3 linked regions of the Homo sapiens genome follow. The protein of the gene in region 1 purifies or fractionates together with the protein of each later gene. This does not show direct contact. Each region holds a gene or a part of one and is shown in the gene's direction. Other genes may lie near its edges.

The links.
Region 2: the proteins of SOSTDC1 (region 1) and ALCAM purify together in Homo sapiens (affinity purification with western blotting; one study listed by BioGRID). This does not show direct contact.
Region 3: the proteins of SOSTDC1 (region 1) and TACC1 purify together in Homo sapiens (affinity purification with mass spectrometry, with the first as the bait; one study listed by BioGRID). This does not show direct contact.

The regions. Positions count from the first base shown.
Region 1 is NC_000007.14:16,463,629-16,467,378, reverse strand, and holds the start of SOSTDC1 (sclerostin domain-containing protein 1 precursor), read left to right. Parts: upstream 1-1,640; 5' UTR 1,641-1,710; coding exon 1,711-1,915; intron 1,916-3,750. UniProt on the Homo sapiens protein: May be involved in the onset of endometrial receptivity for implantation/sensitization for the decidual cell reaction Enhances Wnt signaling and inhibits TGF-beta signaling. Directly antagonizes activity of BMP2, BMP4, BMP6 and BMP7 in a dose-dependent manner.
Region 2 is NC_000003.12:105,365,357-105,369,106, forward strand, and holds the start of ALCAM (CD166 antigen isoform 1 precursor), read left to right. Parts: upstream 1-1,552; 5' UTR 1,553-2,052; coding exon 2,053-2,125; intron 2,126-3,750. UniProt on the Homo sapiens protein: Cell adhesion molecule that mediates both heterotypic cell-cell contacts via its interaction with CD6, as well as homotypic cell-cell contacts. Promotes T-cell activation and proliferation via its interactions with CD6.
Region 3 is NC_000008.11:38,828,719-38,832,368, forward strand, and holds part of TACC1 (transforming acidic coiled-coil-containing protein 1), read left to right. Parts: intron 1-2,406; coding exon 2,407-2,459; intron 2,460-3,650. UniProt on the Homo sapiens protein: Involved in transcription regulation induced by nuclear receptors, including in T3 thyroid hormone and all-trans retinoic acid pathways. Might promote the nuclear localization of the receptors.

The DNA.
Region 1 (3,750 bases):
ACCATCCTACTGTAACAACCATCAACTTATAATTAATCTTTTGCCACTCACACCTCTAACCTCCTCATATTATTTTTGAAGCTTATTCTAGCTTATTCCATATAATGTAAAAGATGATATAAAATCATTTCATCTAAGGATATTCCAGTATATACTTCTAATAGAGAAGCAGTCATTGTTTTAAAACAAAACTACGGTACCATTTCTGTCCTAAAAAAGAACAATAATTTCTTGGTATTATAATATTTTTCCTTTATACTTATTTTTACTTTCTTTTATAGTGAGATAGATGAATAGATAATTAGTGGTTAAATTGGGGGTGATTTTACCCTGTAGGGGTCATTTGGCAATGTTTGGAGTTATTTTTGTTACCAACTAGGGGGGTGCTACTGGCGTCTAGTCGTTAGAAGCCAGGGATGCTGATAAACACACAGGATGGTCCCCCAATAATAAAGAACTGTCTCTTCCAAAATGCCAGTAGCGCTGCTATGGAGAAATTCAGGTAGGCAGACATATAGGCAAATGGCAGTTACAAGGGACAAAAGCTTATACAGAAAAGAGATACAAAATTAGGTGATTTAGGTAACCACACAAAGGACAAAAATGGATTTATAATTGAAAAGATGATTCAGAATAGTTATTCCAATTGAGATGTCCCATGATGAAATAGAATTTTATGATTGTTTTAAAGGGATCATCAGTGGCCTATAATTAATTAATGGAACACGTGTTCTGGGTGCCGGTAAAGTAATTCAGAAAAATAGGTTTCTTACTTGGGCAGCAGAGTCAAAGGAAGTAATGAGCAAAATATTTAGTAAATACGAGTAGAATCTGTGTTCTGAAAAAATCTAGAAAAAATTATTTTGAATCCGCTAAAAAGTCTGTCACAAATGGCTTTATGTAAAACAATGCTATGGATATTAATGCTTGTGACACATTTTTAAGACAAAAATGAGTATTACTTACTTTAATGTAGACAGAACTATGCTCATTATTCTCCACACAAAACCCCTGGCAATAATTTACCTAGCAGCACAGTAGTTCTTGTAGATCAAAGCTGCATTATTTAAGCATGTCCAGGGGGCAGGTTTTAGCTCTGTGCCTTTTACTTTAAGGAAAAAAAAATATTGGTTTGCTTCTTGAGAGAAAGCAATGTTTAGCTAACTAGGTGCTTCATGCAAGTCCTGCAATATTTAAACTCACATGAATTCCTCCTGTTATCTGGGAAGAACTCCCTTTCTGACCCAAATACTCTAAAATCTGAGGAAAGTACAGAACAACTGTGGGAAAGCCAGTCTCTTCAAATGAACAGCGATGTATTTTCGTTTAAATTAAACCCGAATGTTAACTAGATTCAGGAAAGGAAATGGCAGAGGAGAGTCTGTCGTTGATATAGAATACGCCTGCCTGCGTCGGCTCACAGACAAGTGATGAAGTCCAACTCTGAAATTTCAGGCAATTTGTATACCAAGCTCCTCCTTTTCTGCAGTCTTCTTTTCCATTGGTAAAATTCTTTTGCAGGGTCATGTAGGGATCCCACCCCTTCTCTGTGTTTTCACTCTGAAGCTCTACACAACTTTACACCTGAATGAACGCCAAACCTCTATGGATATATAAAGGGAAGCTTGAGGAGGAATTTCACAGTTACAGTGCAGAAGCAGAAGCAAAAGAATTAACCAGCTCTTCAGTCAAGCAAATCCTCTACTCACCATGCTTCCTCCTGCCATTCATTTCTATCTCCTTCCCCTTGCATGCATCCTAATGAAAAGCTGTTTGGCTTTTAAAAATGATGCCACAGAAATCCTTTATTCACATGTGGTTAAACCTGTTCCAGCACACCCCAGCAGCAACAGCACGTTGAATCAAGCCAGAAATGGAGGCAGGCATTTCAGTAACACTGGACTGGATCGGAACAGTAAGTGTGTTTTACTTGTACAGTTTTTTTTTTTCTTTTCTGGTAGCATTAGCTCACATTCCTGTAGAATTGTTTTATTGGTAACTAACCTGAACCGTATATATGTTGTGAAACAATTTGGGAGTAATCTGCTGCATGTGCAGGTTGGCATTCTTCCCTAGGTAGTGATTTTAAAGTTAACCTAACTAAAACAGTGGTTTAATAGTGCAAGCACAGACTGAAGTTTTATCAAACATCCACAAAGAAAACATTTCCAGGAATTAAACTATTGTTTTGTCAAAATCATGCAAAATGACCATTTTAAAAAGTATTGTTTTAGATAGCTCAAGTTCCGGTTGTTTTGTCAATTTATTTCAGGGCATATGCAATTTTGGTAAAGTGTATAAACGTAACTAATATATATTATTAGTTACCATCCACAAATAAATATAGGGAATCACAAGGGAAAAAAGGAAGCTTCCAGGAGAAAAAATTTGTTTACATTGGATTTCTAAAATATGTCTAGTGAGATAGTCAAAAGTTTTGATGATGCTCAATGTAAAAGAGGGATAAACTAAAAATGTTGGAGAATCACATTTTTCTAAAATAATTCCTTGTTGTCCCATTCAAAATTTAGATAATTGTGTATTTCTGTGACAGACTGGGGACATTTTTGTAACTTAAGAGATGTAAAACAACAGCTTAGTTGACACACTAATTGACCACTGGTTAGGGGGATTCAAATTACCCCTAACTTTTGTTTCTATCTTTTCCTTTAGAAGAGGCCATATGCTAATAATCAGGTTTTAAGAGAGAGAGAGAGAGAGAGAGAAACACTGCGCAGGAAATCTTACACAAATCTTTTGCCTCTCCTTCTTCACTCCATTCAACTACGAAAAGTAGTTTTGACTTTTGAAAAGTCAAAGCAAATTTGACTGTTAATGTCTAAGAAAGCTAGGATGTTTTAACTTTCACGAAGCTGGTTGCTTTTAAGTACACAGGACATATCTGATTATTATTAGATTACTGAGCAATGTGGTGGGTATTCGTTGTCAATGAACTGTCACTGCAAAAATGCCAAATCTGTATATACACAGGAACAGAAAGCTTGACGAGACAAAATTATTTCTGGCTATTTCCAGGTGCATTCCTGAGGCAGCTGCAGGAAGGTGAGCTGGAGGCAGAATCAGGCACGCTGAGCACACTGTCCAACCAAACAATTTACGCTTTACATTTTAATCCCACAATTCTAGATTTCTATGCATGCATGTCTATATACATAAGTTTTTCCACAACTATCACGTTCCCCTTAAGCTATATCTCTTACCTCAGAAGTACTAGCATACAGAGATGAAGTGAAACTCCTGATTCAGTTCTACTTCGACGTATCTTTCAGTACTTTTTGTGGAACCACTTCAGTGTCCCTTATCATTTTTATTTGTAAAATGTCAGCAGCCTGTACTTTTAAACATCCTTTTTTTTTTTCCTGGTTGGCAAGCCTTGATTTCTTTTCAAGCTTGTTATAGGCAATTCTCCTCAAGTTTAGATAACAAAGCAAGGGTAAGGAAAACTTAAAATATTTAAAGATTAATTTTTGCTTTAATTACATAAGGCATGTAACAAGAAACAGCCAATTAGAGAACATACCTATCAAATCCAAATAACTAAAACAAAAAGTTTGCCATGACCAATATTCAGGAAATGAACACCGTGGTTCCTTTTGCAGTTGTAAATCAGACATGTTAGGCATTTTTCTGCCATAAAATTCATGGAAATGTAGCCAAGTTGTTATGGCAACCATACGTTCCTGATTTAGGGGCTTTTATATTCTTTGAGTCTTGAGTTGTAGTGGCATT
Region 2 (3,750 bases), on another chromosome or scaffold:
TGGTATAAAAGCTCTACTCTAGAATATTGTTAATGTAAGGAGAACTGGAAGAACAGGACAAGCAGGCTTTTGAGAAAAATCACAGCTGAAGATAGGGCTTAATAGTTTAGAGCACTAAAAGATAAACAATTTTAAAAATCAGTGTGTGAGTGTGTGTGTGTGTGTGTGTGTCTGTGTGTTGCGAGTCTCCAATCTCGCTGGTAACTCGCAGTTTTCTGATGAAAGTGCAGTATGTAACGATTACTAGTTGGCATCCTCTGCTGGAGACCAGTCTCACAAAAGGGTGACCCTGTGATGCACGAAAGGCTATTTAATGCCCCAGCGAAGTGCTTCAGGGACCAAGATTTTATTATTCTTTGGTGATGAGAGTTGTGATCCTGCATCCCTGATTTAGAGCCACTTAGGGCTCCGACAGCTCCACCCCGGTGTTCTAGAGGAAAATCTTCCTTCATGCTCTCTGCCTGATTTGAAAGCAACACAGCTTCCCGATGTTCCTCCTGGGAGGTGGTTCAATCTTTAGAAATTGCCTAAGAAGCCTGTCCATCTGCTGGAGTGCCTGGCTTTCGGGAACGGACCAAGACGGACTTGGCTTTTAATCTGAAATAATTTGAGGATTTTCTGTCTATAACTTAAAATCACCGCTTAACTCAAAGTAAAAAAGTGACACGCTCTCTAGAGGGCTTTTGTAGACATTGGGAAAATCCGTATGACGAAGTACGGTTTAGAAATTCCGGATTTAATTTCCCCCGGGAAAAGCAAATATCTTCTGTTGGTACCGGGCAGTCGACTCACGTAGTCTTCCTTTAAAACCAAGTCTATGCCAGCCGGGTGTGAGGGGAGTGGTGGGGGTGAGCAGGGGGAGGAGAGAGATTCGAAAAGTACAGGAGGAATCAGTCCAGTACAGGGGTTGCCCCTGCCAACAAGTAGCTATTCCTGTTAACTCCCAAGAAGCAAGTTTCCACCTTTGCCACTTCCTCCTGCCCTTTCCTTTCCTTTTCCCTTCACTCCCGCTCTTGGACCCAAGGTTCGCTCCCCACCGCCACCGCCCTGCCCCACTATTCTCTTTACAGGACAGAAGGCTGCAGCAGCACGGCGGAGAAAAATCTCTGAGGAATGAGTCAGTGGGATGGGCGTATGGGTGGAGGGAGAGGGCAGTCGATTTTTAAACCTCAGCGAGGGTGGGTGGGCAGTTGGAAGCCAGAGGCCTTATCACTGGGGCGCTGCAACATCACAGAAAGTGTTAGTCCCAGGGCTCTCCCTGGCGCGCGCGGCTCCTGTGCTTGCTTCTTATTGGCGGACCTGGCCCTGGGGGCGGAGCCGCGGTGAAGCACCGCTCATCCGGGCTCCAGGACCGGGGCACGCGGTTCTCCCTGATCCCGGAGCTGGGCTCAGGGCTCGGACTCAGTCCTGCAGCGCCTCTAGGCTGCGGATCCGCGCTTCAACCACCTGCTTTGCGCTGCGTCCGGGGAAGTGGGGAGGAGACGGGAGGGAGGGAGGAGGCGGGGAGAGGAGGAAAGAGGCAGCTTACACACGCCTTCCAGTCCCTCTACTCAGAGCAGCCCGGAGACCGCTGCCGCCGCTGCCGCTGCTACCACCGCTGCCACCTGAGGAGACCCGCCGCCCCCCCGTCGCCGCCTCCTGCGAGTCCTTCTTAGCACCTGGCGTTTCATGCACATTGCCACTGCCATTATTATTATCATTCCAATACAAGGAAAATAAAAGAAGATACCAGCGAAAAGAACCGCTTACACCTTTCCGAATTACTCAAGTGTCTCCTGGAAACAGAGGGTCGTTGTCCCCGGAGGAGCAGCCGAAGGGCCCGTGGGCTGGTGTTGACCGGGAGGGAGGAGGAGTTGGGGGCATTGCGTGGTGGAAAGTTGCGTGCGGCAGAGAACCGAAGGTGCAGCGCCACAGCCCAGGGGACGGTGTGTCTGGGAGAAGACGCTGCCCCTGCGTCGGGACCCGCCAGCGCGCGGGCACCGCGGGGCCCGGGACGACGCCCCCTCCTGCGGCGTGGACTCCGTCAGTGGCCCACCAAGAAGGAGGAGGAATATGGAATCCAAGGGGGCCAGTTCCTGCCGTCTGCTCTTCTGCCTCTTGATCTCCGCCACCGTCTTCAGGCCAGGTGAGCAAGGGCCTGGGAGCAGCCCCAGACAGACGTGGGCCTGGAGCAGTTTCCTAGGTCCCCGTCCCAGCCTCGCACCCCCGAGGCAGTGCGCCCAGGCGCGTGGTGGAGGTAAGGGGACCGCTGTCCTGGCACAGAGCTGTCCCCGGGCTCGGTCACCTGTGCCGCACGTTTGGGCTTGGCTGGTTAGCTCAAGTTTGGGCATCAAGCTGGGGAAACTGGGTGAATCTCCAGGAACTTGGTGCTCCGGGGTGGGCAGGATTCGCCTGACGCTCTCCCCTTGTCCCTGCGGCTCCCAGCTAGGCGGCGGACTCTTGCCCTCTGACAGTTCCTCCTGTCTCTGGGTATCCAAGTCCACGTCACTGCGCCCCGAGCAGTTTTTCTTTCGCTTAGTTCTCGGATGAAATAACTGCCGGCACTTTTTCGTGATAAATCCCCTAGTAACTTCCCCTTGGTGAGCCGAGGAAGGGATGGGAGGGGTAGAGAAGGAGAGGACTTTAATCACCTCCCCCCGCCCCCCTTGCGAAACCTGCTAAAGCTTAAAATCGTGGTTTCAACGTTACCCCCTGCGGTCCCCGTCCATTGTCTGGGCGGGTGGTGAGTGAAAGGGTGACCGCAGGCAGATAACACAGCCAGAACAGGAATTAGTAGGTAGGCCTGGGAGACACCTCAGTGAGAGGTTTGTGAATTTCCAGGACCTGCTCATAGAGCCTCAGTTCTCAGTTCTGTACTGAGTCTTGGAAGAGAGAGAGAGAGAGAGAGAGAGAGAGAGAGAGAGAGAGAAAAGGCAAAATTCCCAACAACTAAAATATCTCTCGGGAAATCCCTTTCCACACCCTCGGGGACGTCCCCTGGCCCTGGTATCCTCAGGCCCGCCTGGCGGCTGACACAAGTTGTTCTAACAGGGTATTCCGTGCGCTCACAGTTGCCTGACAGAGCAGCAGGTTCCTTTGCTCCCCTAAACTGAAAATTTAGGGGATTTTTTTTTCTTTGAAGTTTTTTTTTTCTATCCCTGCGTAGACAGTTGCCAGTTAAACTCCTACTTCCTGGTATTTTGGCCTGTTTGTTCTTAGCTTTTTCTTTAGCTTTTATCAAAGAAAAATCTCACTTCCTTTTATCCGTGCACATCCCTTCAGCTGTCGGCAAGCTCAGGTCACAGAAGAGGTTTGAAAGCCTCTGAATCTCTCCCAGGAACTGGCGGGGAGAGGGGTTTGGGGGCCAGAGCCTGAGGAAGAGATTACAAGTGTTTGCGAGCTGCTGCTGCTGCTGCCGTTGCTGTGTGTGTGGGCGGGAGGAGTGCCCTCTCCAGATCTCTTTATTAAAGTTACATTTCTGGGTGAGGTAATGAGCTCACCTGATGTTTCTGAGGCTGAGGGAAAAAAAAGGCGTCTGCGTTCTCTGACAAATCTCGGGCTCTGGGGCGGGGACTGTGAAACCATAGTTCAACCGGATTTAAAGCAGGTGTCCTAGTGTAACAACGCTGGGGAGGTAGGTGGAAAGGCGAGACCCCCTTGGGCCTGGCACAGTGTGGATTTCACTTTTTCGAGATTCCACTGTCCGATGGAGGAAAGGACACTTTGGAGCCAGGGAATGAGCCAAGAAGGGAGGACAAGGGTGATGTCGGT
Region 3 (3,650 bases), on another chromosome or scaffold:
AGAGGGGCCGAGAGACCTCCCTGCTTCTGCTGTGTCCTCAAATGCGAAGGCACCATATTTTGGTGAAGTGTGTTCTGAACCTCATCATTAGTAAATGGTAGAACTACATTTGACTCTAAGCAGTCTGGTTCCATGGTCTTTTCGCCACAATGCCAAAGTATGAAGAGATTATTTTCATGATACTAGGCTACTGTAAATTTTCCTGGTACAGATGTGGTAAGTTGAGATTGACCAGTGCACTGTAAAATCTTTCTTAACATGCCAATGAGGAACCTGGGCTAACCAGGGTGGAAGCCTCTTATTGATGGACTCATCAGATCATTCTAGAGCTAAGCCCCTCTTTCTTGGGACCCCAGTTACATCCTTGGCCTTAAACTTTACTTATGAAAAGTTTAGAACCATGTTCCTGACTACATTAAACATTATTAAAAACTCAGATCTTCTTAACATAATTTTATTCATGGGCTTTTATGTATAGAATTTTAAAAGTCATGATCTGCCATTAAGCCAGGGAAGCAGATGGAAAGTCAGGACTTGGAGCAATTTATTCCCCCTGGCCTCCTTCTCATCCCAGGCCTCAGTCTCTCATCTATAAAATAATATGCCAGGCATTGTTCCTGATTTCTTCCAATACTGTCTTCTGCCCTGACATCTTTCCCAAAGATATTGTTCACCATTCCCCCAGTTTCTTGGGGTTAATCCTGAGTATTCTTAACACCTGCCTTGGTTTTTTTCCATCTGAAGTGTCTTCCTTTGCTGCCTCTTACACAGATCTGCACATCCCTTCAGGTCTCTCCAGCATGCTTTTGCTCCCACATTTCCTTTCCCCCTTCCTGTTCCACAGTACCTAGCGCAGTGTGTTAATTACAGGAAGGTAATATTATAAACTTACTGAGGTTAGAGACTACCACTCATCTTTGAGTCACCTTTGACACAGTACATGGTAAACATTTATTGAATTATATTCTTCCTCACTAGAGGAAATTCCTTCAATAAAAATTTATGTAGAGAGCTGGGGCCCTGTACATACAGTGCTGTCTTCAAAGTTAGCAAACAGCAAGGGGAACATATTTAAACAAGTGGTTACATTGTAACTGATCAGCCGCATCACAAGCAAGTGGAGGCTGCGGTCCTGGGTGTGGGAATGGCTACAGGCCCTGTTAGGTGAATCCTGACTGTGTCCTGGTGAGTGTCCCCTTGAAGCTGGGTCCTGATGGATACTTACTAGATGTTCTCCAGGAAATGAGATTTTCACACAGCCATGGGAAGAAAGCTGCCACGTTGGTAAAAGGCCTGGTTGCTTTCTGTAAGTATCTGGCCAAGTGGGAAACAAGGTCATACCGTGGAATCTGGGCTTGATCCTATAGGTAGGGAGGGGGAGGTTGAAGGTTTTTGAATAAGGGAGTGATGGTCACATTTGTGTTTTAAATAATTAGCTATTGACAACAATAGTAGTTAGTGATTGCCATGTGGAGGATTGTAACTTTAAACTTTTGTATGCTTTTCTGTATTTTTATGTTTACTTTAATGAGTGCATCTTCTGGTTATTTTATTTTTTATTTTTCTTATTTTTGAGACTGAGTTTCGCTCTTGTTGCCCAGGCTGGAGTGTGGTGGCGCTATCTCAACTCACTGCAACCTCCAGCTCCCGGGTTCAAGCGATTCTCCTGCTTCAGCCTCCCAAGTAGCTGAGATTATAGGCATGCGCCACCACGCCCAGCTAATTTTTGTATTTTTAGTAGATGAGGCTTCGCCATGTTGGCTAGGCTGGTCTCCTGACCTCAGATGATCCACCCACCTTGGCCTCCCAAAGTGCTGGGATTACAGGCATGAGCCACTGTGCCCAGCCATCTTCTGGTTATTTTAAATGTCATCCTCTACCCTAGTAGAGTAGAGGATAGACCTGAGACAAGGAAGCCCATTTGAAGGGGTGGAGGGGAGAATGAGTTTAGTTTCGCTGCCTTGAATTTTAAAGCTTATTATCTTATCTGCTGCATTAATTAGATCAAGGCCACCCTTCTGGGCTGGAATTTAAATTCACTCCGACTTGATGATTAAAAAAAAGCATTCAGTGTTACACAGTGTCCCCTTTCTGAAATAATGCCACAGTTAGTACGACACATTTTTCCAAACTTTTAATGGACACAAGGGGGCAGCCTTGCTGTTCTTTCAGCCTGAAGGCTGACGACCTGTTTGTGGCTGACTAACCATGTGCTCCTCTTCTGAATGTCATGGACTTATAACAGCACTCAACAAAATGCCAGCGCTCCTTTTAAATAAAATCTTAAAATGCTTTTCATGTGTTCATAAGTCATTCTCGCCTGCACTGGGGTTTCCAAGAGCCTTTCACTAGGGAGGAAAGGAACCGACTTCTTGGGATAACTATAAAAATGACTTTCTGTCTTAGGCATAGAGAAGGAGACGTGCCAGAAGATGGAAGAAGACGGGTCCACTGTGCTTGTAAGTTCCTGAATGTGGAGGGCCGGGTGGACTCAGGTTTCTTTCAGTATTTGTTTTGAAGCCCATGTGAATTTGTTAAATTCTGGTCAGTGTTAGGTGATGAGGATAAAATGTAAATGAGATAGTTTCTTCACTTGAGGAACACATAGTCTCTGCATTGTAACCCTAGCCGCAGGTAGCTGTGGAGCACTTGAACTGTAGCTACTCAGAAAAAGAAGAAGCATAAATGTCTCAACTTTTTATATTAACTACATGTTGAGATGATAATATTTTGGATGTCTTGGGTTAACTAAGGTTTATTATTATCATTATTATTGTTGTTATTATTATTATTATTTGAGACAGTCTCACTCTGTTCCCCAGGCTGGAGTACAGTGGTGCAATCTTGGCTAACTGCAACCTTCACCTCCTGGGCTCAAGTGATCCTTCTACCACAGCCTCCCAAGTAGCTGGAACTAGAGGCACGTGCCACCGCACCCAGCTAGTTTTTGTATTTTTTGCAGAAATGGGGTCTTGCCATGTTACCTAGGCTGGTCTCAAACTCCTGGGCTCAAGCAATCTGCCCACCTCCGCCTCCCAAAGTGCTGGGATTACAGGCATGAGCCCCTGCACCTGGCTGGTTTACTCAGTTCTTTTTTTTTTTTTTGAGACAGAGTTTCACTCTTGTCACCCAGGTTGGAGTACAGTGACGCAATCTCGGCTCACTACAACCTCCACCTACTGGGTTCAAGCAGTTCTCCTCCCTCAGCCTCCTCAGTAGCTGGGATTACAGGCATGCGCCACCACGCCCAGCTAATTTTTGTATTATTAGTAGAGATGGGGTTTCACCATGTTGGCCAAGCTGGTCTCAAACTCCTGACCTCAGGTGATCCACCTGCCTTGGCCTCCTGAAGTGCTGGGATTACAGGCATGAGCCACTGCGCCCAGCCCATTTACTCAGTTCTTAAACTTTAAACTTCCTAATTCCCAACTGATTCATCCATAAAATGAGTAGCACCCATCTGCCTTATCAAAGTGGTTGTAAGGATAAGATGAAATGACAACGTGAAAGATTTAAGCTGTAAAGTGCTAGAATACACTAGTGTGCTAGAATACACTGTTGTGTTAGAATACACTGGTGTGGTGTTGATAGGAAACACGTGGAAAAGAGAGTGGAAAGGAAGAGAGTGAAAAAGAAAAATGGCAAACACT